Linked DNA regions of Homo sapiens: regions 1, 2 and 3 are each reported to be linked to region 4. Evidence: microRNA targets listed by miRTarBase, many of them from high-throughput screens and not tested one by one. Region 4 holds a microRNA gene; each other region holds the end of a gene's coding sequence.
What was found. Region 4 holds the annotated microRNA hsa-miR-192-5p (CUGACCUAUGAAUUGACAGCC, at 2,273-2,293, shown strand). A microRNA usually pairs through its seed, bases 2 to 8, with sites in the 3' UTR of a target mRNA and lowers its output. Matches are read on the target gene's strand: a 7mer-m8 pairs with bases 2 to 8, a 7mer-A1 pairs with bases 2 to 7 and ends in A, and an 8mer does both.

Region 1 (7,119 bases), not on the chromosome of region 4:
CTTTTTCCTTAAAATCAGTTAAAATCAGTTTCCACTTAAGTTTGTGTTTGAGAGAGATTTTCTCTGTGCAGAGGAATACTTTTTATTATGCTACACAAATCCTGGGGCAAGAGCAGGGGTGCTTGCTTAGAGATCAAAGGATCATTGAACCCCAAGAAGTATTGCACATTTTTATGTCTTTGTTCATTTATCGTATAGCTTTCATAAGAATCTCAAAGGGACTCGTGACCCCAAAATGCTTTAAAGAATGCTGCTGTTACAAAAGTAGGGACCTCTACTTGCTGTTCCTTGTGGAGCTGCCATTAAAACAAAAATAACTGGGCTAGTTGAAGTTTTCTAAACAAGGGGATGAAGAGTGGGACATGCTGGGAAGCCTAGGAGATGATGGGGTTGGGTAGGCACCCCCAAGAGTCTGTTCATGGCCTGTGCCACCAAAGATGTAAAAGCCCACTGTGAATGCCAGAGTTTCCTCCTCCCCAGCATGGGCACTGCCTTGAGTGCGAACTGTCACACCTGTGTGTGCTAGCCCTTGACCTTGTTCCCTTCTCAGTTAACAACCTGGAATACCTTCAAGGACACAAAAGCACTGGAATACCTTCAAGGACACAAAATCAGTAAATAAAACCAAAAGGCAAACATAAGAGCCTTTTCTCTAAGTTAGAAACCCAGGCCTGCAACTCTTCTAGCCAGTTGGCTAGAAGTGAATCTTTGCAATGATTGTGCCCAGTAGTAGTGAAGGCATTTGAAAGCTAAGAACAAAATCTATAGCTGACTGTTCCTGGTGTCACTCAGTCAATGGAGACTTTAGTAGCGTGCAGCCTTTGGAATATTCTTGTTTAGAATCAATAGAGTGCAGTGTACAAACGCTTACTTACCATTTCATTATTTCCCCACCCCCTCTTTTTTGAAAGCCAAAGGCACGTCCCTGACAGCTGAAAATAGCACGGGGAGGAATAATGCGGACACTTTTGAGGACAAGTTACACCTCCACTCAGCACTCTGGACTCCACGATGCCTTTGAGTCTGTTTTCCCAACCTCCTGTGGGCCTCAAGGGTAGAAACCTGCCGGGCTGTTGTTTTAACGAGGATTTCCCTGAAGCTATGTCTCTAGCAGTGAGTACTCATAAAGGACACTGGATCAAGTTCAGCCACCGAATTGCTTTTATCAGTGTTAAAGTGGTCTGAACTGCTTGCTACCAATCTGTGAGAAGTTTTTGTTTTTGTTTTGTTTTTTAACTTGCAGTATATCACAGAGCCACTCTTCAAGTAGATTGGCTGGGCAAAAGAATGTTTTGGCAAGAGCGTTACTGTAGACCTTTCTCCCTCCTTCCTTTTACTACCATTTTTTTTTAACACTGTCATCTGTAGGTCACTCTCCAGCAGTTAGGCACCTTAACTGGAGACCAGAAACCTTCCAGAGAACACAGGGCTGCATCCCGAGCAACCCTCTGAAGAAGGGAATTAGGCTTTAGATTTTGATAGCAATGTTCCAGGAATGAAATATAGATGTTAGCCCAAGACACCATGACAAAATAGCCCAGCCTTTTGAGAGTAATTTGGGAAAAGAAGCTGTCAGAAGTTTCTAACTTACAAACTGGTTTGAAATTTTTGATGCCCAGACAGCAAGTATAAATCATTTTGGAGGCTTACTTTTCATGATACAAAAGCAATTCTGTGTGATTTTTTTTTTTAAGAAGAAAGAAAATGCAAGCTAGTTTTGAGAAAGGAAGGCCAAATTGGGTCGGGGGAGGGTGGGAGTGAGGAAGTTAAAATCACTATAGGGAGAAAAAACTTTTTTCAAGATTTCCAAAGAGATGAAATTTTCTTAATCCTTTTAAGTTTTCATAGTAAACAGTATGGCAGATTGGGTTGGTTGTCCTACCTGGTCTATTTTTAAAAGTCACCTTTTAAAGTGACATTATTAGATACACTTAAATGTTTCCAAGGCACTCTCTACATTACCCTTGTTTTTCTCTTTGGATACTGTCCTGGGACTAAGTGTAGATTTCTGCTTCAAGCACTTCTGGCATTGTGTGTTTTTGTATGCACTCCCCTTCATGCCACTTCAGATGTTTATTTGGATGTGGTTGGGGACGAGAGCAGACACCAAGGAAAGGGAGTTGGAGAGAATGTAAGTCCTGACCTGAAGGTCTTTTGTGATGCATGTATAGGATTGCCCTGACACACACCCTCCTTTCTTGGGATTATACCAGCCATCTTCCTGAGAGTTTTGGAGCCCTCTAGGATATTTTTTCTAGTACCCCACCCCCCACCCCTAAAGAAAGACCTTAATATGTTAAAACAGCATTGCTTGGAGAAGGTGTCATTGAATTCCGGGACGAGCCGGAGCCTTTAAATGGGTGCTTCCACCACTACAGGCTCCTGACACGAGTAACAGGCACTGTTGCTTAGAAGAACACACGAAGTTGCCGAACACAGGGTAAAATTTCCAAGGCGCTGATCGTTGCCCTGGCCAGGGCCTGATGAGAGCCAGTCAGTACATTCTTTTTTTCCTACAGTTCTTGGGTTTCAAACTTCAGTTTCAGGGAATTTCAAGTCAACAACAGGTAGAATGAATAAACTTGGTTACCAGCCTAATAATGTGAATTGCTACAGAATTATTCTTATTATGTAAGAAAACAAAAACTTTATGCAGATACTTTAGCTATAAATTGATGTAAAATACTGATTTTTTTAAAGGAAGGAGAGAACAGTATCTTGTTCAATTATTATGCAATCAATCAGTAAATGTTTTTAAAATGATACTACAGGAGAGCTTAGTAAGGAGAGGGCATGGATGGGCCAGTTTGGCATAGTTGGGAGAAATCAGTCTGGTTTCCATCCCAGTCGGGGAAGAGAGAGGTGAGAGGGAATCAGAACGTACCTAGTTGATTCCTTGGTGACAAGTGCAATGGGGTATGGGTAGAATTTATTTTCAGAGCCAAGAGGACTTGATGGTTATAAATAAAGTTGCCTTTAGCAATGGAATTTACAGATCGATCATGTTGTTCCGAAAGATGTGAATAGGATCCACAATAACAAGTTGATTCAGACTAATGTAGATATTTAGATTAGCAAGTATTGAACATTTGATTTCTTAGACTGAGGTTTTAAATGAATTTCATTATTTCTCCCGGTAATACACAGAGCATCGGGATTAGGAAATTAGCCATTTTGGATTCTGTCTGCCACAAACAGACCTATTCTAAACAGTGCTATTAAATTTTAGACTGTTGTTCAAATATTTTATTTTCTCCTAAACTACTTTTTATGGTGATGAATAATTAAGACCATTTAAAACACGGGAGTACAAGTATTTTTTTGAATTAAATTAACTTGCAAAAACCAAATTTGCAGTGGTTGGGTTGTTTCTAGACAGACTTTGGTATCAATTTAAAACCAAGATAATTTTTATATTCTTTCCAATAGAATTTCATGACAACTCCTGCAGTTTTCTTAACCTACAAAAAAAAAAAAAAAGTGCTGCAATGATGAACAAAGAATTATACAAAACCTACTTTTGTATCTTTATTTTGGAATTTCTTGTTCTATTATAAATATGGAAGTATCCCTATTTCAGAAGACATATTTTGTTAAAAATGAATTGTACATATTTAAATATGTATTTTTGCACAGGTCTTTTTTTCTGATATCCTGTTTTGGTACAATTGAGATCATCTAGTATTTATTTATTAATTAATAAAAGTAAATACCTTTTTATAATTTGAAGTGGTTCACTGCCAAGCCAATAGTTCTAGAACCTGCCTCCTTTACAGTTTTAAGGGATGCCTCTGTTCTGTGAAAAGTCTTTGTCCCTTTTAGTGTCTCGGGAGTGGATTCATACAGATGAAGTGGGCATTGCTTCTTCCTGGTTGCCTGGTTTCCCGATAGACTACATGTAACTAAGTGACACACTGCTTTTCTTTTGTTAGTATTTTATGTGTGGGAGTATGTGACTGCGTGTGTGTGTGCCTGTGCGTGTGTGTGTATACTCAGCACATGTATGTTACTATGTGATGTGGTTTAAAACTAATGGAAAAAACTGAAAGTGCCTGAAACTAGTTTTAAGCTTAGACAGAATCTCTTTAAAAAGACTTGAATGTTCAGTTGAACTTTTGGAGTTTGCTTTTTCCACCTAAATATTGTTTCTAAAATTTTAGGGGCGGAGTTGAAAACCACCAATGCTGGTAATTTTATAAGGTATTTTAAAATTAAGACCTCTTGGTTCATAGTAATTCAATTGGTGATGGATTGCCTGGTGGCACCAAGGGTTACAGATCTTTTTGTCAGCCAGCAACTTACACGATGTGTCCGTTTTGTTATTCACTCATGAAATACAATTTAAAATATTTAAAATATTTTGTATTCCAAAAATATAATACAAAGAAGTACCTCTGAGAACATTGAAAAAAATGTATAATTTGAAAAATGTAACTTATAAGGGCAGCTGTCTTCCTGCAAGAGTTCTGTTGCCAAGGAATTTCTTAATGTCGCTCATTCTGTCCAGGGGGTTTGGGGCGATTGGGCTTTGAAAAAATATTCTTAAAAGTTTGTTTAGCAGAAAATAATCACTTTTACATTTTGTGCAAAACATTTTACATTTTCAGATAATTTAAATGAGCACTACATACTGTCAGTGTGAATGTAGGGCCTTGAAAGCATTTTGCTTTTTTTTTTTTTTTTTTTTTTTTGAGCTTGGTTATAAAAGCAATCTCCTGTGTTAAAAACGTGTGAATAGTTTGATAATTTGTACACATAATCAAGAGCATCTCAGCTGGACTTTGTGTTGGCTGCTGTATAGAACATGAACAAATGTCAAGGGATAGAAAATTACTTTGGATATTTAAAAGAGAAGAAATATATAGTCTATTTGTTTTGTAACAAGTTTCTGTAAATAAAATAATTTATACTATTTATAAGAAAAGGTTGTGCTTTGCTTTATAAGAAATTAGCTTGTGGAACAAACATGTTACTAAACGGGCAATAAAATTAGGACTTCTCAATAAATAAGGTTGGCTGCATGAAATATTGTACGTTTCTGCCTCGTTGTGATACTAAACCCTTTCAGTCTACTCTGACTTTTCATCACTTTTGGCATGGAACACCCTTGTGAAGCCCCTTCAATTTAGCCTTCCTCTTATATAAGCTAAATACTTCTAAGGCCTGGGGATGTTTCCATCTGGGGGCACAAAGCTTTGCTTTGGATAAATTAGTAACTGTGTAAACAGTGAACATTACTGTATTCTGGCCTTGCATGTTTGTGAAAGAAACGAGGGAGTTGATGGATTGAGAAACACATTCTATTTGTACTTAGGTGCAAATTTGATGACATGTAGTTTTGGTTTAAGATAAGCTTTTTATCCAGACCCGGTCTAATCTCTTCCTTTCTTTTACATACCTCCCTTACTGGCAATACAAGTGCATTTTAGTATTATTTGGAACACAGCATAATCATTTACCTCTAGAAATCCAGACATTTTTACTGTTTGCAAATAAACCATTCTGATAAATTATTTTTGTTGCTTAAAATAAGAGGAGGAACCGCTGTGTGTTAGCAAGAATGTCCATACCTGATATGAAAGAGTCATGTTGGCTTCAGTTCCTACTGCCCTGTGGACTTCCCATTCCCTCCTTACTTGAGTCAACCATCCACTCAGTACTTTCCACAAATCTAATAATGAGGTGCTCTCTGTAGGTAAATCCTTTCACTATGGCTTGTCCTCAAACCTCCCAAGAAAAGGTTCAACTGCTCAATCTCTTAACCTTTTTAATTCCATTCCCTTGCAGGTATCCCGGCCCTGCATAACAAGATGATCCCAACTCAAGGAAAGGGGTTTAGCAGTGTTGGATCTTGGCGTATGTGGGATTTAACCAGGCAGAAAGGCAGACAAGAGTAAGATTCTAGGCAGAGAGAGCAAATGCGTCGAGCATGGGTATGAACATGTGAGGGATAGAGAATAATTCTGCAGGAAGTTTGCTGGATGGAAGGGCCTTATAGGGTTAGAAAAGCTGGTGTCAGATTGTCAAGGACTTTGAATGTCATGGGGCTTCTCTTCCAGGAACACATGGGATCAGGCTTAGATTAACCCAAATGTAATTGTCAGAGCCCAGAGATATTTCATGGTCCAGTCCTAGCACTGTGCAGCTGCCAAAAGTCAAAGCCATTCAAATCTGTACTGAAAACTGTGGAAAAGCAAAGGAGCACTTAAGTCTCTTTCCCCATGTCTTGCATTCTCACTCTCTTTTGCTTCAAAGATCTGTCTTTACCTGCCCCTGTCCCCAGTCCTAACAAAAAGCACTCCCCTAAATCAACTCTTAAGTTCCTCTCCCTTCTCACTCCTTTCTTAGTCTCCTCTTTCTGTAAGAAGTTCTTGCTCCTGTTGTTAATGGAAGTTAATTAAAGTAGTATTTCACCTTGTAAGGCTGTAATTCTTGGCACTTGTTATCCTCATTTTCTACATCCAAAGACCATGGACCAGAATATCTCTTAGGAGGTAAGGGAGAGTGAGGCTATCAGCCAAAGAAAAAGTCTCCAGGGGGAAGGGGAGAATCACTTATAATTTAATACTTTGTGGAAAAAACATCTCTGCCACCTATGGCCCTCCAATAACAATGGAAGACAGAATCAACAGGTGAGAACCTTGGGACAAAAATAAGTTACAAAGCTGTTGTAATCCAGGTAAGAGCTATTAAGTTTCCAAACGAAGGCTGACTGTGAGGATAAGTGATACTGATTTCAGAAATCTTTAAAAAGTAGAACCAACAAGCCTTGAGGTCTAACTCTGTTCAACATTAAAGGGAAGAGTGAGTCTAAGAAGACTTCAGGTTTCTAGCTTGGCCAAACCAATTGAGCTTTAAGTGAAATGTGCGATATGGTAACAGAGAAGGAAAAAGACATAACGATAGATTTGAGCTGCTGGTGGGAAATTCTGGTTTAGTGCCCAGCTGGCTGTACAGGCTGGTTGGACTTTAGGAGGGAGGTTTGAGCTGGAAAATAAAGATGGAGAGTTGTCTTTCAGTTTTAGATCATCAGTGAGGTCATAAGGGTAGATGGAGTTTACCTGGGAAAATTAAGTAGCTATTCGATTTGGCTTATTATTATGTTAAAATAATACTTCT
Region 2 (7,119 bases), not on the chromosome of region 4:
TAGGCTTCCATGGACAGAGTGCCACCTGGCGTAGCTTCCCTCTAGCTTTGCCCAAGCTCTTCAAGCAGCCATGGCTCTACAAGCAGCGCCAGGTTCCCAGCCTGTACACTGACCCTGAGGTCTAGGTCAGCCACAGGGAGGCTGAGTTCTCATTCTCCCTCTTCACACCAAAGGCAGGCAGTTCTAATACCCAGATGAGGCAGGGTACTAGGTAGAGGGCCCCCTGCGTGATCTTTCAGGGAAACTATAATCTTAAGAGGAGACTGACTTACTGTTGCTGTGCCCCCTGCCCAGGTGGCTCCCCTGTCACACAGTCTGACACCTTAGTGATAGGTGAAGGAGGTTGGCTGTCTGAGGAGAGCGGGGATCCTAAAGGAAGGAGTACAGTTCTTGCCATGGAGTCTGCTTCTCCCTGCCCCCCCCAATAGTCCCAGCTTCCCTGGGACCTGTGGGGACTGGAAACCTGCTTCCCCAGATGAGTGGCAGGCTGGCCACAGTGCCCTCCAGAGAGGCCAGAGCTTCAGGCTTGTGTAAAATGTATCCCCTGCCATGGGCAGAAAGAGGAGCATTGTAGGGAAAGGGAGCGGGAGGGCTGGAAGTCTCAGATTCCTCTTTCCCCCACCTTTGCAGATATCTGCACCTCAGGAGAGACTGTATTCCACGTGGATTGGGTGAGTAGCTCTTCCAGGAGTAAGAACAGAACAGGAAGTGATGGCACTGATAACCCCTCAGCACCCTCTAAAGAAAAGCCTGATTTGGTTTGGCCCCAGGGGACTGGTAGGCTCCACACACAGCCACTTCTCTCTCACACAGTTCCTCTGGGTTTCCTCCCTCCAGGGGCTCCATCCTTGCCTCCCTGGACACCTTTAAGAAGATGTGGGTCTCCAAAAAGGAATATGAGGAAGACGGTGCCCGATCCATCCACAGAAAAACCTTCTAATGTCGGGACATCATCTTCACCTCTCTCTGAAGTTAACTCCACTTTAAAACTCGCTTTCTTGAGTCGGAGTGTTTGCGAGGAACTGCCTGTGTGTGAGTGCGTGTGTGGATATGAGTGTGTGTGCACATGCGAGTGCCGTGTGGCCCTGGGACCCTGGGCCCAGAAAGGACGATGAACTACCTGCAGTGGTGATGGCCTGAGGCCTGGGGTTGACCACTAACTGGCTCCTGACAGGGAAGAGCGCTGGCAGAGGCTGTGCTCCCTCCTCAGGTGGCCTCTGGCTGGCTGTGGGGGACTCCGTTTACTACCACAGGGAGACAGAGGGAGGTAAGCCATCCCCCGGGAGACCTTGCTGCTGACCATCCTAGGCTGGGCTGGCCCCACCCTCACCCCCACCCCCAGGGTGCCCTGAGGCCCCAGGCAGCTGCTGCCTCCACTATCGATGCCTCCTGACTGCACACTGAGGACTGGGACTGGGGTTGAGTTCTGTCTGGTTTTGTTGCCATTTTGGTTTGGGAGGCTGGAAAAGCACCCCAAGAGCTATTACAGAGACTGGAGTCAGGAGAGAGCAGGAGGCCCTCATGTTCACCAGGGAACAGGACCACACCGGCCACTGGAGGAGGGCAGGAGCAGTCCTCACTCTGAATGGCTGCAGAGTTAATGTTCCCAGCCCAGTCCCCTTTCGGGGGCCTTGGGAGAGTTTAAGGCACCTGCTGGTTCCAGGACCTCGCTTTCCATCTGTTCTTGTTGCAATGCCATCTTCAAACCGTTTTATTTATTGAAGTGTTTGTTCAGTTAGGGGCTGGAGAGAGGGAGCTTGCTGCCTCCTGCCTTGCTACACTAATGTTTACAGCACCTAAGCTTAGCCTCCAGGGCCCCACCTCTCCCAGCTGATGGTGAGCTGACAGTGTCCACAGGTTCCAGGACCATTTGAGATTGGAAGCTACACTCAAAGACACTCCCACCAGGCTCTTTCTCCCTTTTCCTCTTGCTCACTGCCCTGGAATCAACAGGCTGGTTGCTGGTTAGATTTTCTGAAACAGGAGGTAAAATTTTTCTTTGGCAGAGGCCCCTAAGCAAGGGAGGGGTGTTGGAGAGCCAGTGCCCTTAAGACTGGAGAAAGCTGCAATTTACCAAGTTGCCTTTTGCCACTGTAGCTGACCAGGGGACTAGGTTGTAGAGGTGGGAAGGCCCCCTCTGGGCTGATCTTGTGCCATTCTTGACCTTGGACCTGCTTGGTTAAGGAGGGAGTGGGCCAGACCAGAGTGCCAGGAGCTAATGGAGCCAGGCCTGACTCCTAGGAGTGGTCCAAAGGCCTTCAGCCTAGATGGTGCAAAGCTGGGGCCAGCCTGTCTTCACCGGCACCCTCACCTGTGACACCAAGACCCACCCCAATCCCAGACTTCACACAGTATTCTCCCCCACGCCGTCCTATGACCAAAGGCCCCTGCCAGGTGTGGGCCACAGCAGCAGGTATGTGTGAAAGCAACGTAGCGCCCCGCGGACTGCAGTGCGCTTAACCAACTCACCTCCCTTCTCTTAGCCCAAGCCTGTCCCTCGCACAGCCTCGCACAAACCACATTGCCTGGTGGGGCCCAGTGTACTGAAATAAAGTCGTTCCGATAGACACGTCAGCTGGGCCTCTATCTGTCTGTCACCAGGGCCAAGTGGAAAGAGGAAGAGCAGCAGGCACTGAATCTGAGGTGGTGACTGGGCCTGATCCATCCTCTAGAGGGCATCATTGCACCAGCCAGCCTTGTCCAGAGCATAGCCCAAGTCCCAGCCTGTCAGGTGGATGCAGAGAAAAGGGTGATCACACCACAGCCTAAGTTCAAGAACAGAAGGTCCCACTCCTGTGTACACTGTAGCCCATGGGTGAGACTCAACTCCAGATGACAGGAGCAGCTCTCAACATCCCTGAAATCAAAGATTCTCAAAACTGTCAAGTGAATAAGAAGGCCAGGAGCTTGGCCGGGCACGGTGGCTCACGCCACACCTGTAATCCCAGCACTTTGGGAGGCCAAGGCAAGTGCATCATAAGGTCAGGAGTTCAAGACCAGCCTGGCCAAGATGGTGAGATCCCGTCTCTACTAAAAACTACAAAAATTAGCCGGGCGTGGTGGCAGGCGCCTGTAATCCCAGCTACTCAGGAGGCTGACGCAGGAGAATCGCTTGAACCCGGGCAGTAGAGGTTGCAGTGAGCTGAGATCGCACCAGCCTGGGCGACAGAGTAAGACTCTGTCTCAAAAAAAAAAAAAAAAAAAAGAAGAAGGCCAGGAGCTTATTACAGTGCAGTTTCCAGGGCCCATACTCAGATATCCTGATTAATCACTTCTCCGTTTAAAACCTGCACTTGGGAGGAAAATTGCCAGGTCTTTGCCAAATGGTAACTATTTAATCTTCCCAATAACCTTACAAAATATACGTGCTTTTGTTGTCCATTTTACAGATAAGGATTTGGAGCCACAGAAAGATTAAGCAATTTTCCAAAGTTCTGCCTTTTTTTTTTTTTTTTTTTTTTTTTGAGATCATGTCTCACTTTGTCACCAGGCTAGAGTACAGAGGCACAATCTCAATCTCCGCTCACTGCAACCTCTGCCTCCTGGGTTCAAGCAATTCTCCTGCCTCAGCCTCCCAAGTATCTGGGATTACAGGTGCCTGCCACTGTGCCCAGCTAATTTTCATATTTTTAATAAAGATGGGGTTTGACCATGTTGGCCAAGCTAGTCTCGAACTTCTGACCTCAGGTGATCTGCCTGCCTCGGCCTCCCAAAGTGCTGGGATTACAGGTGTGAGCCACCGTGCCCAGCGCTGGCCTTTCTTAATCCCGAATGTAAACCCAGGCCATAGAACCTACAGCCTACATTTTTAATCACCATGCAGCCTGTAAAAAACCATTGGCCTAGAGCAGTGGTTCCCAATTGGAACCAATTTTGCCTCCCAGGACACATCTGGCAATGCCTGGAGATGTATTTGTTTGTCGCAACTGGTGTGTGTGTGGGGTGGGGTGGGGGGTGCTAAATGTCTACAACAGAGAACAATCTGGCCCCAAATATCTCCAGTGCTAGTGCCAAGGTTGAGAAATGGTGGCTGAGAGTCATGGTTTTCAGTGCCAGCTGCATGATAAAATCACCTACAGAGATGTTCAAAATCCTACTGCCCAGGCCATACCCCAGACACATTAAGTCAGAATCCCAAGGAATGGAACTGAGATGTCAGTATTTTTTAAGTTCCCCAGGGGACCCCAAGGCTGAGAACCTCGGGCCTAAAAGAGGCTCCTCTCTCTTTGACTACCATGTCCAGCAGTGATACATGGGAAATGCACTGAGGCCTAATGGTCATTTTGGGCCCGAGTGCCTATGCAGTTACCAATCTATGTTTTTCTCCCTGGCATCTTGGTAACCCACCAAGGTGGGTTTTTTTTTTCTTTGAGATGGAGTCTCATTCTGTCGCCCAGGTTGGAGTGCATGCAGTGGCGCGATCAATGCAACCTCCTCCTCCTGGGTTCAAGCGATTCTCCTGCCCCAGCCTCCCAAGTAGCTGGGATTACAGGCACACACCACTACACCTGGCTAATTTTTGTATTTTTAGTAGAGATGGGGTTTTGCCATGTTGGCTCAGGCTGGTCTCAAACTCCAGACCTCAGGTGATCCACCCACCTCGGCTTCCCAAAGTGCTGGGATTACAGGCATGAGCCACTGCGCCCGGCCTACCTACCACTCTTATTCAGAAAAATGCTCTCAGGGGCTTTTTCTAGTCAGTAAGGAATCCTGGTTCTCAACCCCAGCAACCCACCACTCACTCACACAGCACAGACTTGAGGAAAAAGAATGGCTGACTTTAATCAGTCTATAAGGAAATAAACATCTTTAGAGGCCGTGTGGGGGTGGGGGAGCCCTGCAGCAGAGGAGGCATGCCACTTCAAGCACAGCTGAAGCAGAGAAACCTCTCAGAGAAACCACTAGAAGGGTGGACGGAGTGGGAGGTGGGACTTACAGTCAGCTTTCCCTGACTGGGCAAAAGGGAGCAGTTGCAGTATTAAAAGTGGTTCCTGAGTCCACCACAGCGGCCAGCTCCAGTCAGGCAGCGGGATGGGCTCCCACGCCCCATGGCAGGCCTGTGTGCACCACAGGGCAGCCCCCTCCCTTCTTGGTCCTCTTCTGTCCTCCTGCCTTACAAGAGAAGCACGTCCCTGAGCACATATGGCCCAGCCCTTGCCCAAGCTGAGCCAGACAGGTAAGCAGAGACTTTCACTGCAGTGATGCTTCTGGCTCAGCCCCAGGAGCTACCCGCTGCCATGTCTTCCAGGCTGCACTAGAGGAAGGCAGTGGAGCAGGGTGCTGGTAAAACTAGCTCCTGGCCGAGTGCGGTGGCTCATGCCTGTATTCCCAGCACTTTGGGAGACCAAGGCAGGCAGATCACTTGAGGTCAGGAGTTCGAGACCAGCCTGGCCAATGTGGTGAAACCCTGTCTCTACTAAATAATACAAAAATTAGGTTGGCCACAGTGGCTCACGCCTGTAATCCCAGCACTCTGGGAGGCCGAGGCGGGCTGATCACCTAAGGTCAGGGGTTTGAGACTAGCCTGGCCAACATGATGAAACCCTGTCTCTACTAAAAATACAAAAAGTAGCCGGGCATGGTGGCACGCTCCTATAATCCCACCTACTCGGGAGGCTGAGGCAGGATAATTGCTTGAACCTGGGTGGTGGTTTCAGTGAGCCCAGATTGCACCACTGCAACAGATCCATTTTTTTGGGCAACAGCTCCAAAAAAAAAAAAAAAAAACTATGAAATCCTTAAAAAAAAAACCAAAAAAAACTGGCTCCTTCCCCAGGCTGCCAGCAGCATCCTCAGTGGGGTGACCTTGCCACAGCTCTCACACCATCTTAACATCCAGGGTTTGGGCCTGTGACAGGTTCTGGCGCTGGGCCTTGACCATGTGCAGGCGTCTCCCATGCAGCGTGAACTGGGACCAGGTGAAGAGCTGCAGCAGAGCACAGGTGATGGGCACCAGCACCAGCAGGTAGAAGCAGCCCTGGCGGAGCGTCGGGGCCTGTGCAGGGGCTGGAGCTGGGGGCTCTGGCCAGGGATGGGCACTCCCCACAGGGGTTATGAGGGACTGCTGGAAGAGGTCATGACCTAGGACAAGAGAGCACAGAAAGACCATGGTCAGCCCACTGTCCTCCAAGCCTTGGTGCCCTCCAAGTCTATGGTGTGACATCTCAGACACCACATGGACGTGTCCAGACCACAACTCCTGATTCCTCCAAACCCACTCCTCTCCTACTCTTCCCATCTCAGTGACGGGCACCACCATCCACCCAATAACTCAGGCCCAAAACCTCAAAGTCCTCCTCAGTTCCCTGGTTGGTTTCACGCCATCACTCCCCAACACCCAATCCTTCATCTCCCCCCAACTCCAAAACGTATCCCACCTGCCACCACCCTGGCCCAAGTCTCCACGGCCTCTGCCAGTCTCCCAAAGATGTCCCTGCTGTCCCCATTCTGGCCTCCCTATGATCTGCTGTCCATATGGCAGCCAGAGTGAACTTTTTTTTTTTTGGAAAGAGGGAGTCTCGCTCTGTCACCTAGGCTGGAGTGAAGTAGCACGATCTCCACTCACTGCAACCTCGGCCTCCCAGTTTCAAGCGATTCTCCTGCCTCAGCTTCCCAAATAGCTGGGGCTACAGGCATGCGCCACCACACCCAGCTAATTTTTGTATTTTTTAGTAGAGGCGGGGGTTTCACTATATGTTGACCAGGCTGGTCTCAAACTCCTGACCTCAGGTGATCTGCCCTCCTCAGCCTCCCAAAGTGCTGGGATTACAGGTGTGAGCCACCTCACCCAGCCCAGAGTGAATTTTGTTAAAAAGTCAATCACACTACGTCACTTCCCTGTTTAAAACCCTCCCTGGCCGGGCGTGGTGGCTCATGCCTGTAATCCCAGCACTTTGGGAGGCCAAGGTGGGTGGATCACCTGAGCTCAGGAGTTTGAGACCAGCCTGGGCAACCTGGCAAAACCCCATCTCTACATAAAATACAAAAAGTTACCCAGGCATGGTGGCATACGCCTGTGGTCCCAACTACTTGGGAGGCTAGGTGGCAGGCTCACTTGAACCTGGGAGGTCGAGGCTGCAGTGAGCCAAGATCGTGCCACTGCACTCCAGCCTGGGTGAC
Region 3 (7,119 bases), not on the chromosome of region 4:
TAATTTCAAAAGATTTTTTCTACAGCATGGTGGCTATAGTTCCTAATAATGTATTTGTATTTTTGAAAAGTGCTAAGACTATGTCACGTGCTCTCACCACAAAAAATGTTAACTATGTGAGGTAAAGCATTAATTACCTAGAATTAAACATTTGACAATGTATACACACTTCAAAATTCATGTTTTACAGAATAAATATTTATTTATTACAGATAATAACTGCATAAAAGACACTAAAAGGGCAGTTGTTGCTTTGGTCTCATGACTGGCCACTCTTCGAACACAGTAAACAAGTTTGTGAGCAAACTAATAGGATATGTTTCAATCCAAAAGCTGTCATGATCTCCAAGTTTTACAGAGAAAATGATCAATAAGTTGGCTACAGTTATGTGACAAAGAATAGAAACTCTAGACTGAACTTCACCCACTAAAAAAATTATATAAGACTGAGAGATTTTTTCAAATTGTAATATCAATATAAAAAAGAAATATTATTCCAAATTTTAAATCCACAGAGGTCATTTTATTATTTTACAAACTTTAACATTCACACTTAAAAATAGAAGATTCTGCACGGAAACGTTAAGTTGTGCTATATCATAGAAAATTAAATTTAAAAAATTTCACTCACCATTAGCTTTCTTAAAAATTTAATTTCTGAGATATATTTTTTAGCAAATATTTGCCACACTTTGTGTAAGATTTTTTTTCTTTTACAAGCAGAAAAAAAGAAAACTAACTGACTTATTCCTCTCACCTGTGGATACTGAATGCCTTTTATCTTAATTAACTGATCTGAAAGTTGTATTGACAAACTCTCCAGTTAAAACTAATTTTTTAGTACATTAAAAAAATACCAACTTTCTCATCAAAACCTACAAAGTACCATGTAAAATGACATGGCATAAAGACAACAATGAGAAAACCATAGATATAATACTGAAAAAGAAGGAGAAGGGCTGTGATGCATACATAGCTGGAATACACATAATAAAACAAAAGATACTTAGAAAATAAAGGAAGAAGAATTTCTCTTCAAATTCAGCAAGAGTTAGTTTTGTAGCCTGGAAAAAGTGTCTTTTTAACATGAAAAATCAATATTATTTTTTCACCATTGATATTTTCCATCTCTGACTTGAAGTTACAAACTAACTTCAGCAGGAATATTTATAGCTTGTTATGCAGCATTTGTTACACAGCAAGCACTCTCATGTTTGTTTGCTATATTTATATATAAAAACATCCTCATGACTTATAAAGCATCCTTAGTATTTACCTGAAAAAAAAATTGGCTCAATAAATAAATATAGTTATTTCAATTATAAAAAGTGAAAAGAACAACAACTAAAGCAGGTTTAAAGAGTTCTCCAATTAAAAGAACAAATGAAATGTTCTAAGAAAATAAAATATAACTTGATAGACTAATTTTGGAATTACATATAAATATTATTTTGTGTGCACTACTAAATTTTATAAAAGCATTATAATCCCTGACAAGCTCACATAATGCCTCAGAAACTATAAAAAAAATTATAAAAAAAAGAAAATTATAGGTCCAGCATGAGTATCAGGCAAGTCAAAACAAAATATTTGCATGGGAAGATTCTGAACTATAAACCATAAGATATTACAGTAATAAATTTAACACAAAGCAGACAGTATACATTTGTTTTCAGCATTTTTGAGGTATTCAGTTTTCTAGTAAACTAGTTACCTTATTATTTTTTTGAGATGAGTCTTACTCTTTCACCCAGGCTGGAGTGCAGTGGCATAATCTCAGTTCACTGCAACCTCCAAATCCTGGGTTCAAGCAATTCTCTTGTCTCAGTCTCCTGAGTAACTGGGACTAGAGGTGCACACCACCACACCCAGGTAATTTTTGTATTTTTAGTAGAGATGGGGTTTCACCATATTGGTCAGGCTGGTCTCGAACTCCTGACCTCAGGTGATCCACCCGCCTCAGCCTCCCAAAGTGATGCGATTACAGGCGTGAGCCACTGCACACAGCCAATTAGTTACCTTATTAAGATGATTTGTTTTGTGCCAATATTGCTCTTTTCTTCTGAATATAGGTACAAATTCATATTCACAAAAACACACATACTTTATAATTTTCTTACCCTTAAGGTTTATCTTTAGAGTAATATATGTGTATATTTACATCTATGTAAATAAAAATTAAGAGTCTGTATGTGTTTGCAGGCAGTAAGACCACATGTTTAAAGAAAAATATTAACAAATTTTTAAATGTTTATTCAGAATTCAGAAATGTATGGATTTTATTAATACTTCTATACAATTCTTATTATGACCATAAAACAAAATCATGACCAAAATCTTGCCACTTGCCAAAGTGGCCAGATGGAAATAGACATTCCATGCAAATTGGTTACTGTAACCAATAACAATTGCACATTTCAAAAGAACTAAATGTGTAGAATAGGTTTGTAATACAAAGGGTAATGCTGGAGGTGATGGATACTTCACTTACCCTGATGTGATTGTTACATATTATATGCCTGTATCAAAATATTCTATATATGGTATAAATATATACACATACTATGTACTCACAAAAATTTTTAAAAATAAGTTCATATAAGAAAAAAAGAATAAAAATTTAACCTACAAGAACAATATTCTTTAACCTATTTGCAGTTTAAAGCCACTGGCAAAAGAGATGTTAGTTCATTATGTTACCAACCTGCACACTGTAACCATCTTTTAACTACATTCTTGAGTACGGTAGATAGGTTAAACTTAGTGGCATCACAACGCATCGTTGAATGCACAATGATCATAATATGTTTAAAAAAGTTTAATTATAAAACTAAGTTTACATGTAGTCTGAAAATTTAAAAACGTACTGCATTTTATTACATAGAAATATAATTAGTAAAATAATATATTACTAATTTTAACTAATATTAAAAATGTTTTTCATTTACTATAATGCAGAAGAATATTACTCTAAACAACCACCTCATATATCACTCAATATTATGTTAACCACAAAGAGCCCCACCACTTAGATTTTCATCATGCATCTTACGTTTTAATGTTCTTATTCTTTTTTTTTTTTTTGGTGGTACAATGGTTATTTTTTTCTTTTTTTTTATTATACTTTAAGTTTTAGGGTACATGTGCACATTGTGCAGGTTAGTTACATATGTATACATGTGCCATGCTGGTGCGCTCCTTTTTTGTTTTTGAGATGGAGTCTCGCCCTGTCACCCAGGCTGGAGCATACGTAATAGTGTACTTCTCCTTCTCCCTCTCCCTCTCCCTCTCCCCACGGTCTCCCTCTCCCTCTCTTTCCACGGTCTCCCTCTGATGCCGAGCCGAAGCTGGACTGTACTGCTGCCATCTCGGCTCACTGCAACCTCCTTGCCTGATTCTCCTGCCTCAGCCTGCCGAGTGCCTGCGACTGAAGGCGTGCGCTGCCACGCCTGACTGGTTTTCGTATTTTTTTGGTGGAGACGGGGTTTCGCTGTGTTGGCTGGGCTGGTCTCCAGCTCCTAACCGCGAGTGATCCGCCAGCCTCGGCCTCCCAAGGTGCCAGGATTGCAGACGGAGTCTCGTTCACTCAGTGCTCAATGTTGCCCAGGCTGGAGTGCAGTGGCGTGATCTCGGCTCGCTACAACCTCCACCTCCCAGCCGCCTGCCTTGGCCTCCCAAAGTGCCGAGATTGCAGCCTCTGCCTGGCTGCCACCCCGTCTGGGAAGTGAGGCGCGGCTCTGCCTGGCCGCCCATCGTCTGGGATGTAAGGAGCCCCTCTGCTCAGCTGCCCAGTCTGGGAAGTGAGGAGCGCCTCTTCCCAGCCGCCATCCCGTCTAGGAAGTGAGGAGCGTCTCTGCCCGGCCGCCCATCGTCGGAGATGCAGGGAGTGCCTCTGCCCGGCCGCGGCCCCGTCTGGGAGGTGAGGAGCGTCTCTGCCCGGCCGCCCCGTCTGAGAAGTGAGGAGCCCCTCCGCCCGGCAGCCACCCCGTCTGGGAAGTGAGGAGTGTCTCCGCCCGGCAGCCGCCCCGTCCGGGAGGGAGGTGGGGGGCCCGCCTCCGCCTGGCCGCCGCCCCGTCCAGGAAGTTGGGTGGGGGGGCGCCTCTGCCCAGCCGCCCCTTCTGGGAAGTGAGGAGCCCCTCTGCCCGGCCGCCACCCTGTCTGGGAGGTGTACGCAACAGCTCATTGAGAACGGGCCATGATGACGATGGCGGTTTTGTCGAATAGAAAAGGGGGAAAGGTGGGGAAAAGATAGAGAAATCAGATTGTTGCTGTGTCTATGTAGAAAGAAGTAGACATGGGAGACTTCATTTTGTTCTGTACTAAGAAAAATTCTTCTGCCTTGGGATGCTGTTGATCTATGACCTTACCCCCAACCCTGTGCTCTCTGAAACATGTGCTGTGTCCACTCAGGGTTAAATGGATTAAGGGCGGTGCAAGATGTGCTTTGTTAAACAGATGCTTGAAGGCAGCATGCTCGTTAAGAGTCATCACCACTCCCTAATCTCAAGTACCCAGGGACACAAACACTGCGGAAGGCCGCAGGGTCCTCTGCCTAGGAAAACCAGAGACCTTTGTTCACTTGTTTATCTGCTGACCTTCCCTCCACTATTGTCCTATGACCCTGCCAAATCCCCCTCTGCGAGAAACACCCAAGAATGATCAATAAAAAAATAAAAAATAAAATAAATAAAGAAAAAAAAAGAATAGTATACTTTTTTTTTTTTGAGATAGAGTCCTGCTCTGTTGCCCAGGCTAGTGTGGAGTGGTGCGACCTCGGCTCACTGCAACCTCTGCCTTTTGGGTTCAAGTGATTCTCCTGCCTCAGCTTCCCGAGTAGCTGGGGTTACAGGTGCGTGCCACAGTGGACAGCTAATTTTTGTAGTTTTTAATAGATGGGGTTTCACCATATTGGCCAGGCTGGTCTCAAACTCCTGACCTCATGATCTGCCTGTCTCAGCTTCCCAAAGTGCTGGGATTATACGTATGAGCCCTGCGCCCAGCCTAATGTTCTTATTCTTTAATAGAAAAGGTCATAAATAATGACCTAAGAAAAAAAAATCTCCTATCTTTGATGTAGCAACCACTGATCACATGCTTTCACATGTGAATATAATAGCAATGAAGAAGAAAGAGCATGAAGTAATTTGAAAGTTGAATGACATGATTATTTTCTTTTCAAAAAAACCTAACTTTTTTAAGGAAAAAAGTATACTTTGAATGTAATTAAAACTCTGCAAAAAAAGTTCTACTTCTTTTAAAGTTATATACAAATAATTAATCCACCAAATTTAGTTTTGGATTATTTTCTATACTCAGCACTCTGATTTAGTGTGGTGTCTGAAGTGCCAGCACCTTAGATATTTCTACTGTGAATCCTCTGATATTTACATAAACTTAACTTTGGATTAAATATATTTTTATATCTACTGCATCTGCAAAAATATATTTTAGTATGAATCCTCTGCTGCTTTTTAAGCTGTAGTTTTTGAAAAAGTTTTTCAAAATTTGTTACATTTGCAGGGTTTTTCTCAAATATAAATCCTCTGATGTTGGCCAGGTGTGGTGGCTCATGCCTCTAATCCCAGCACTTTGGCAGGCTGAGGCAGGTGGATCACCTGAGGTCAGGAGTTTGAGACCAGCCTGAACAACATGGAGAAACCCTGTCTCTTCCAAAAATACAAAATTATCCAGGCGTGGTGGCACATGCCTGTAATCCCAGTTACTCAGGAGGCTGAAGCAAGAAAATCGGTTGAACCCGGGAGGCAGAGGTTGTGGCGAGCCGAGAATGCGCCATTGCACTCCAGCCTCGGTAACAAGAGCGAAACTCCGTCTCAAAAAGAAAAAAAAAAAAATCTGATTTTAAACAAAATTTAAGCAACTGCTTCAGGGGTTTCCTCTAGTACAAAATCTGTACAATAAGATTTGTGATACAATTAAAGGTACTACAACCCTCTTTAAATTTGCAATGTTTGTCTTCAAAATGGTTACTCTTTTTCACATTAAAGGCTTATATTTTCTGAATGCTTTTGACAGTAATTCCATTTATAATGCTTTTATTAAGTACTTTCTGATGCTGAGTAAGATGTGAGCAGATATTAACGGCTTTTCCACATTCTTTATATTTGTATACTTTTTCTCAACTAAAAATTCTTTTCTGTGCAGTAAGGTGTGAGCATAAATTAAGTTTTGCCACATTGTTTGCACTTGTAGTTTGTTCCAATATGAATTATCTTACCTAAAGTGTGACAACCATTTAAAGACTTTGCCATAGTCTTCACATTTTTAGAATTTCTCACCAGTATGATTACTTTTATAAGTCTGAGGTGTTGTCAAAATTATTGTCACATCTTTCAGGTTAGTAGTTTCTCTCCAGTATAAATTTTCTTATGTTTAGTAAGACTTGTAAATTGATTAAAGCTTTGCCATAATTTTCATATTTGTAATTTTTCTCCGGTATGAATTATCTTATGTTTAGTAAGGACTGAGGACCATTTAAAAGCTTTGTCACATTCTTCACATTTGTAAGGTTTTTCTCCAGTATGAATTCTCTTATGTTTAGTAAGGTTTGAGGACTGGTTAAAGGCTTTGCCACATTCTTCACATGTGTAGGGTTTCTCTCCAGTATGAATTTTCTTATGTTTGGTAAGTTTTGAGGATTGGTTAAAAGCTTTGCCACATTCTTCACATTTGTATGGTTTCTCTCCAGTATGAATTATCTTATGGATAGTAAGGGTTGAGGGCCATTTAAAACCTTTGCCACATTCTTCACATTTGTAAGGTTTCTCTTCTGTATGACTTTTCTTATGTCTAGTAAGATTTGAGGACTGGTTAAAAGCTTTGCCACATTTTTCACATTCATAGGGTTTCTCTCCAGTATGAATTTTCTTATGTTCAGTAAGTTTTGAGGATTGGTTAAAAGCTTTTTCACATTCTTTACATTTGTAAGGCTTCTCTCCAGTATGAATTATCTTATGTTTAGTAAGGGTTGAAGAGTGTTTAAAAGCTTTACCACATTCTTTACATTTGTAAGGTTTCTCTCCAGTATGAATTATCTTATGTGTAGTAAGGTGTGAGAAATGATTAAAGGCTTTTCCACATTTTTCACATTTGTAGGGTTTC
Region 4 (7,119 bases):
GGGGCTGGGTCAACGGCTCAAAAGGCCCTGGGCCCAGGGTGTCCCCACTTCCTCCTTGTGCCCCGAAGGCCAGCCCGGCACTCAGGTAAGAGGCTTCCTGAGTGGTAGGACCCCTGCCGCCCTCCCTGTCCTAGGAGGCTCCTGAACCCAGGCACCTCTCTGAAGGGTGGCCAATCCTGAGGAAGAAAGGGACCTGGACAGCCATGGGGTGGCCGGGACGAGCCCCTTCCTCTCTGTGCCTTGGTTTCCACTGTGGGATAAGGGGGCCTTAGCATCAGCGCTCAGAGCTGTGGAGCCAGGATTCCTGATCGGGCGCTGTCTCTGCCAGGCCAGGGCACTTGGACACCACGCTGCAGGAGGCTGGTCTCGCCCAGGCCTCTGTGGGAAGGGCCGCCAGGCTGAGTGGAGGGCCAGCCACCAGCTACGGTGTCTTCCTTCGCAGGTCTGTCCCCCCAGGCAGAAGGATTCCAGCCCAGGGATCCCCCATCCCACCCTGACTGCATCCTGAGAAGGGGGGACGCCACTTCGGGAAGGTTGTTGGGGCAGCACAGGCCCTGGGGCCCTGCTCTGTGACCTTGGGCGGCCCCCTCTGTCTCTCTAGGCCTGTATGCACCACTGGCAAAGGGGGCAGGGCCCAAGTCTACTCTAAAAGCTCCCCTTTCTCTCCAGAAGCTTTGGAGTCTCCCAAAATGCCTGCTGGGTCTCTGCAGGACTGGCACCTGTCACCGGAACCTGTCTGGGAGGGACGAGAACACGCTTTGCAAGAGGAAGCTCTGCCTCACAGAGCCCTGGGCTCACTCAGGGACCCTGGCCAGCAGCTGCTTCCTCTCCCCACAGCGGAGAGAGACCCAAGGGTCCCAGGGCGGATGCTTCCCACCAGGCCAGCCCAGCGTGCAGGGTGGCCTCGTAAGTCCTGATTGACATATGGACAGTGGTTCAGAGAGGTTACGCTACTTGCTCAAGGTCACCCAGCTCCCAGGCCCCTGCTGTCTTCCAGGCCACTGAGGTCCTAAGCGTCCTTCCAGGCGAGCCACTGCTCACAGCCTGTTCCTCATGTTCTGCGGCAGGTTTGTGTATCTACATCTTTTCCAGTTCCCTGTCGTCCCCCTTCCTACACCTCGTCATCCACTATCCCTGTTTGTTTTCTCTGTTCCTTTCTAGTTCTCTACCTGCTCCTCTTATTTTTATTTGAGACAGGGTCTTTCTTTGTCACTGAGGCTGGAGTGCAGTGGCACAATCCCAGCTCACTGGAGCCTCGACCTCCCAGGCTCAAGTGATCCCCCGCCTCAGCCTCTTGAGTAGCTGGGACCACAGGCATGCATCACCACACCAGGCTAATTTTTTATTTTTTGTAGAGATGGGGTCTCACTGTGTTGCCCAGGCTGGTCTTGCACTCCTGGGCTCAAGAGATCCTCCCACCTTGGTCTCCCAAAGTGCTGGGATGCCAGGTGTGCACCGCCATCCTCGGCCTTACTCTTCTCTTCCTCTCTCAGCCCCTCTGCCTCACTATCCCTCTTTCTGTGCCCTCCCCCACACAGCCCCCCACACTTCTTCTTAGTCTCATCTTCAGCTTCCCATACGAGGCCATCCTCATGAAATCAGGCACTGGGAGGTCCCTGGGGACTGACAAGTGCCAGCTGTCCCTTGCTGTCTCTCTGCCCCATGGCTGCAGCAGGGAGGGTGGGCAAAGGGCAGAGGTGACAGTGGCCAAACCTGAAACTGAGGCCCAGCTCTGGTTGGGAAAGAAACAAGGAAACAAAATAACTTGGGGACAGAGGGCGTGGGGTCATCAGAGCGGGCAAAGGCTGCCCAGGAGTTGTAAATCCGAGCCGCTCCCGGCTTTATGAGGCCGATTTGGGGTTGAGCCTGGACTTTGCCCAGGAAGGAGTGCTGGCAGCACACGGGGCGCCAGGTGTGGGCCCCGGATGATAAGAAGCCTCGGTGAAAAGACCATGGACCTGGGGCCACGAAGACTGGGGAGCCCAGGTGAGTGGGCATGGGACACTCTCCAGAGCCCTGCCGAAGGCGGACGCCAGGCAGGGCCCCGGTCTCCAATTGGTTCCCGCCCCCTGTAACAGCAACTCCATGTGGAAGTGCCCACTGGTTCCAGTGGGGCTGCTGTTATCTGGGGCGAGGGCCAGTACCCACGAAGAAGGAGAGGCAGGTGCTGGCCAGCAGACCAGCCAGGACTACCGTGGCGACGCTCCCAGGCCAGATGGTGGCGGGTAGTGGAGGGCTGTCGGTGGGCTGCCGAGACCGAGTGCACAGGGCTCTGACCTATGAATTGACAGCCAGTGCTCTCGTCTCCCCTCTGGCTGCCAATTCCATAGGTCACAGGTATGTTCGCCTCAATGCCAGCCACCAGGACCTGCAGGGATAGGGGAGGGCCGGGGGTGTCCAGCAGTCAGCAGAGATCCTGCGACCCCAGTGCAGCACTCATGGTCCCACCTCCCTCTGTCTCATTCCCCGTGAATGAGCCTGAACAGCTTCAGTCCTGCCCCTGCCCTGCCTGCCCTGTGGCACCTCTATGCTTTGCCCATGCTGTTCCCTTGGGCTGCAATACTCTTCCTAGCTTATTTGCCAGGCTCACTCTTACTAACCCTTTCAAGCTCTGTCCAAGCATTTGCTGCCTCCAGAAGGCCTTATTGAAGCTTCTAAGTCCCCACCTGGGCACCCCCACACAGTGCTGCCGCAGAGCACTGCCCTCTCGGAGCCCCGGTGCTGGTTTCTGCTTATGTCTCGCTCCTCTCCCCATCTGTGAGCTCAGTTCCCAGCCCAGGCGCGTGCCCAATAAATGTTTGCTGAACCAATCCTGAGCCTCTGTCTTGCACCCTGAGGAAGCACCCACCGACATGCAGTGTGGCCAAGGGGGGCTGAGTGCTCTAGGCCCAGTGTTTGTGCTGGAGCCCCCCCACCCAGGATGGGGCCCTGAGCCAGCCTCCCCATCTGCTTCCTACTCTCCCCTCCTTTGCCAGTCTCATCTCCCTGGAGCACAGCCCTGTGGTTGGTGGAGCAGCTTCTCCAGCCCCTAGGATTCCTAAGAGGGCCCAGGACCCCAGCTGCTGGTAGAGGAAGAGCAGCCAACCCAGGACAGGACAGCTGACCCCACCCCTGTCCCGCCTCCCACAACAGCCTCATTTCCACCTATTTCTTTGTGGTGTTTGTTTGTTTGTTTTGAGACAGAGTCTTGCTCTGTTGCCCAGGCTGGAATGCAACAGGCTTCCTCCCAGGAGGAAGCCTCCCCTCCTGGCATGATCTCAGCTCACTGCAACCTCTGCCTCCTGGGTTCAAGCGATTCTCCTGCCTCAGCCTCCCAAATAGCTGAGATTACAGGCATGCACCACCATGCCCAGCTAATTTTTGTGTTTTTAGTAGAGACTGGGTTTCACCATGTTGGCCAGGCTGGTCTCGAACTCCTGACCTCAGATAATCTGCCCACCTCGGCCTCCCAGAGTGCCGGGATTATAGGTGTGAGCCACCGCGCCCAGCCCCACCTGTTTCTTATACAACGGGGTTCTGAGGAAATTTTCCTTTTTTTTTTTTTTTTTTTTTGAGACAGGGTCTTGCTCGCTTTGTCACCCAGGCTGGAGCGCAGTGGTACAATCACAGCTTGCTGCAGCCTCCACCTGCCAGGGCTCACACAGTCCTCCCATCTCAGCCTCCCAAATAGCTGTGACTACAGGCACGTGCCACCATGCCTGGTTAATTTTTGTATTTTTCGTAGAGATGGGGTTTCACCATGTTGCCCAGGCTGGTCTCAAATTCCTGGCCTCAAGCAGTCCTGCCTCAGCCCCCCAAACTGCTGGGATTACAGGCATGAGCCACTGTGCCCTGTCAGAATTTTTCATTTGAATAAAAAGGTTTCTGGTACTACAAAATAAAATTTGTAAAATGGGAAATAGAGACCTAGGAATAAATGTCAAATTGCTTAATAACAGGCGTTGGCTATTGAGCCCTTTCTGTCTGCTGGGCACGCACATCCAGGACCTGGTCCTCCTGGCATCCATCATGAACCTGTTTGGGACAGGAGGACACAGGCTCAGAGAGGGTGCACATTTGCTGAAGTCACAGAGCAAGTTGGACCTTCTCCTGGGGACTGTAGGCAGCCAACAAACATCTGGCCCCTAAGACACTGTCTCTCTCCCCTTCCCACAGGCAGCTCTGCTCACACTGTCCTGGCTGCTCTGAATCCCTGGGCCCCGATTGGCCCCTGCCGTGGCCCAGCTCAGCAACCCCTCCCTGCAGACCATCCCATGACTCTGCAGGCGCTGCTCCCCTCTCTGCCCACACCCCGGCTTCGTGGGCCTCTCCCGCCACCCTTATCTCATTCCCTACAGAGTTAAGGAGCCCTGTGTGCTTATCTAATCCTGTGCTAGTTTCAGACTCCTTGAGGGCAAGGTCCATGACTTACTCATCCTCCCTGGCTGCTTCCCCCACCCACCAGCATAGTAGGTGTTCAGGATACATGGGCTGGATGGTAGGGCCCTGGACTCTAACCCTCTTGGGGCTGTCAGGCCTCAGACTCAGAGCACTGGCATAGGGTGAAAGGGGAGCAGACAGCAGCCACCCTGCCCTGGGGGTCCTCCTGCATCTGCCTCTGCAGAGCACTGCGATCCCACAAAGGCCTGCGAGGGCTATTGGAGACCTGTTCCAATGCATGAGCAAGGCGGATCCAGCACCCTCCCCCAGCTCCTTGAGCCCACTGACCTGTGTCCTTTACCCAGCAGGCCCTGGGCCCATGCACATTTCCCTGGCCTGGGTCTCACCTCCAACCCCTCTCAGAACTCCTCAAGACCTGCCCAAGGGTCACTCCCTCGCGGACACCTGCCTGGCCCCCCGCCCCGCCCCCCATTACCCCACTCACTGGCTCCCTGGATGCTCTGTGGCTGGGATGTTAGCGCCCCCATCATGCCCCATCACCCACACCGGGCTATTTCCCCCACCAGCCTGAAAGCCCCCAGGAGTGGCGGCCACTGACTTTTTTCCTGTAGCCTCAGACTCAAAGGAGGCACTTAATAAATGCACACAGAAGGACTGACCTTGTGCATGAGCAAAGTTGCTTAGGGAGGGAGCCTAGACACAGTGGGGCGGTCAGCACAGAGCTGGCGGTGGGAGGCCTCAGTAGTATTGTCTTTGTCCCATCGTCCACACCACACGTGTGTGAAACGCTACGCTGACAGAGGCCCTGAGAGGTTGTGCAGATTGACCGTACGCCAGCCTCAGAGAGAGAAGGCCCAGGCGGGGAGGAGTAAAGCCTCCCTGGGAGAGGTGAGTGTGAGGTCGGCGTTTGCTGAGGTGAACCCCAGAAACAGGTCGTGATCACTGGAGGAGGAAGGAATGCCAGGGGCAAAGATGCAGAAACCGGACGGAGGCGCGGGGCGGGCGGGGACAGCTTCCTCTTCTGCAAGGCTTACTCCCGGTGGCCACCACTAGGGGGCGCCCCGGGCACCCCTCCCAAGCGGGGCGGGGCCAACCCTCCCCACCGCGCGGCTCCCAAGGCCTGGGGGAGCAGCCCCTGGGTTCGCCTTCCCCGGGCCGCCTAGAACTGCGCCTGGCCTGGCCAGGACACTGTCCTGGGCCTAGGGCACAGCCCAGGTGCCAGCGTCCTACACACAGTTGCGGGTCCCAGGCGCGCACTGCCTTACCCAAGGTGGCCCTGGTGGGGCTCTTCCCGCTGTGGTGTGTATAAAACATCACTGTATAATGTATATTCATAGAATTCACAATGAGTCCCCATGTAACAACCTGCAGAGCCCCCAAATATGCCCTTCCAGGTCCCCCCCGCCCATGGTCAGCACAGTTCTGAGTGTTAAGGTAATCACTTCCTCTCCTTTCTCTGGGATTTACTACCCCGTACACTTTCCCAAACAGTCTGCGAGCATTTTGTCTGGCTTTCTTGTTATTAATGTAAATGGAATCACGGTGCCGTGTCTGGCTGAGTCTCATGCAGTTGATGGAGCCGAAGCTTCTTCACTCTTGTTCACTGCTGTATAGTGAAGAGAACACTTGGGGTTATTATGAGCGCTGTTATTATGAGCACTGTTGGGATTATAATGAGTATTGTAATGCACAGATTCTACTGCAGGGTGCTTCTCCAGCAGGGGCTGTCAGGTCATGGAGTGGTGGACCTAACACTGGACCAGGCCACATGGTGTGCCTAATAAAGGACAGCTGGGTACAGGCCTTTTTTTGATTTTGTTTTTCTTTTTTTTTTTGAGACGGAGTCTCATTCTGTTGCCCAGGAATGCAGTGGCTTGATCTCAGCTCACTGCAAGCTCTGCCTCCCGGGTTCAAACGATTCTCCCGCCTCAGCCTCCCGAGTAGCGGGGATTACAGGCACCCACCACCATGCCCAGCTAATTTTTGTATTTTAGTAGAGATGGGGTTTCACCATGTTGGCCAGGCTGGTCTTGAGCTCCTAATCCCAGGGGATCTGCCCACCTCGGCCTCTCAAAGTTCTGAGATTACAGGCGTGAGCCACCGTGCCCGGCTGTCTTTCTGTTTTTCTTTTTGACAATGATGACAGCTTCAGAAAAGTTGCAAGAAAAGTACGAACAACATCCATATACTGTTTATTTTGATTCATTGACAGTTAACACTTTGCAATTATATATATATACACATATTTATATATATACATATATATACACATATTTATATATATACATATATATACACATATTTATATATATACATATATATACACATATTTATATATATATACATATATATATATACACATATTTATATATATATACATATATATACACATATTTATATATATATATACATATATATACATATTTATATATATATATATACACATATATATATATTTTTTGAGACGGAGTTTCTCTCTTATTGCCCAGGCTGGAGTGCAATAGCGCTCACTGCAACCTCCGCCTCCCAGGTTCAAGCAATTCTCCTGCCTCAGCCTCCCGAGTAGCTGGGATTACAGGCATGCGCCACCACACCTGGCTAATTTTTGTATTTTTAGTAGAGACGGGGTTTCTCCATGTTGGTCAGGGTGTTCTCGAACTCCCGACCTCAGGTGATCTGCCCGCCTCGGCCTCCCAAAGTGCTGGGATTACAGGCATGAGCCACCATACCCGGCCTGCA

Region 1: miRTarBase lists ATXN7 as a target of hsa-miR-192-5p. Seed matches in the 3' UTR shown: 7mer-m8 at 1,366-1,372.
Region 2: the mRNA of SLC68A1 is a reported target of hsa-miR-192-5p. The part of its 3' UTR that is shown has no 7-base or 8-base seed match.
Region 3: the mRNA of ZNF85 is a reported target of hsa-miR-192-5p. The part of its 3' UTR that is shown has no 7-base or 8-base seed match.

The regions. Positions count from the first base shown.
Region 1 is chr3:63,998,539-64,005,657 of GRCh38, forward strand. It overlaps ATXN7 (ataxin 7), which reads left to right. Exons shown (of 13, transcript NM_001377405.1): 13 at 912-4,924. The coding sequence ends at 929. It overlaps PSMD6-AS2 (PSMD6 antisense RNA 2), which reads left to right and starts at 5,484. Exons shown (of 3, transcript NR_038286.1): 1 at 5,484-7,119. RefSeq lists an enhancer at 1,906-2,407.
Region 2 is chr10:102,474,684-102,481,802 of GRCh38, reverse strand. SLC68A1 (solute carrier family 68 member 1) reads right to left here. Exons shown (of 10, transcript NM_024789.4): 10 at 4,758-6,081. The coding sequence ends at 5,819. ACTR1A (actin related protein 1A) reads left to right here. Exons shown (of 11, transcript NM_005736.4): 10 at 631-671; 11 at 838-2,574. The coding sequence ends at 940. Among named protein-coding and RNA genes, the nearest start is that of SLC68A1, 17 kb to the right of the region's middle.
Region 3 is chr19:20,949,615-20,956,733 of GRCh38, reverse strand. ZNF85 (zinc finger protein 85) reads right to left here. Exons shown (of 4, transcript NM_003429.5): 4 at 6,037-7,119. The coding sequence ends at 6,432. Among named protein-coding and RNA genes, the nearest start is that of ZNF85, 30 kb to the right of the region's middle.
Region 4 is chr11:64,886,377-64,893,495 of GRCh38, reverse strand. MIR192 (microRNA 192) reads left to right here and starts at 2,250; the gene lies at 2,250-2,359. It overlaps MIR194-2HG (MIR194-2 host gene), which reads left to right and starts at 47. Exons shown (of 3, transcript NR_133640.1): 1 at 47-85; 2 at 670-906; 3 at 4,156-5,038. MIR194-2 (microRNA 194-2) reads left to right here and starts at 2,057; the gene lies at 2,057-2,141. RefSeq lists a silencer at 5,341-5,700 and an enhancer at 5,534-6,104.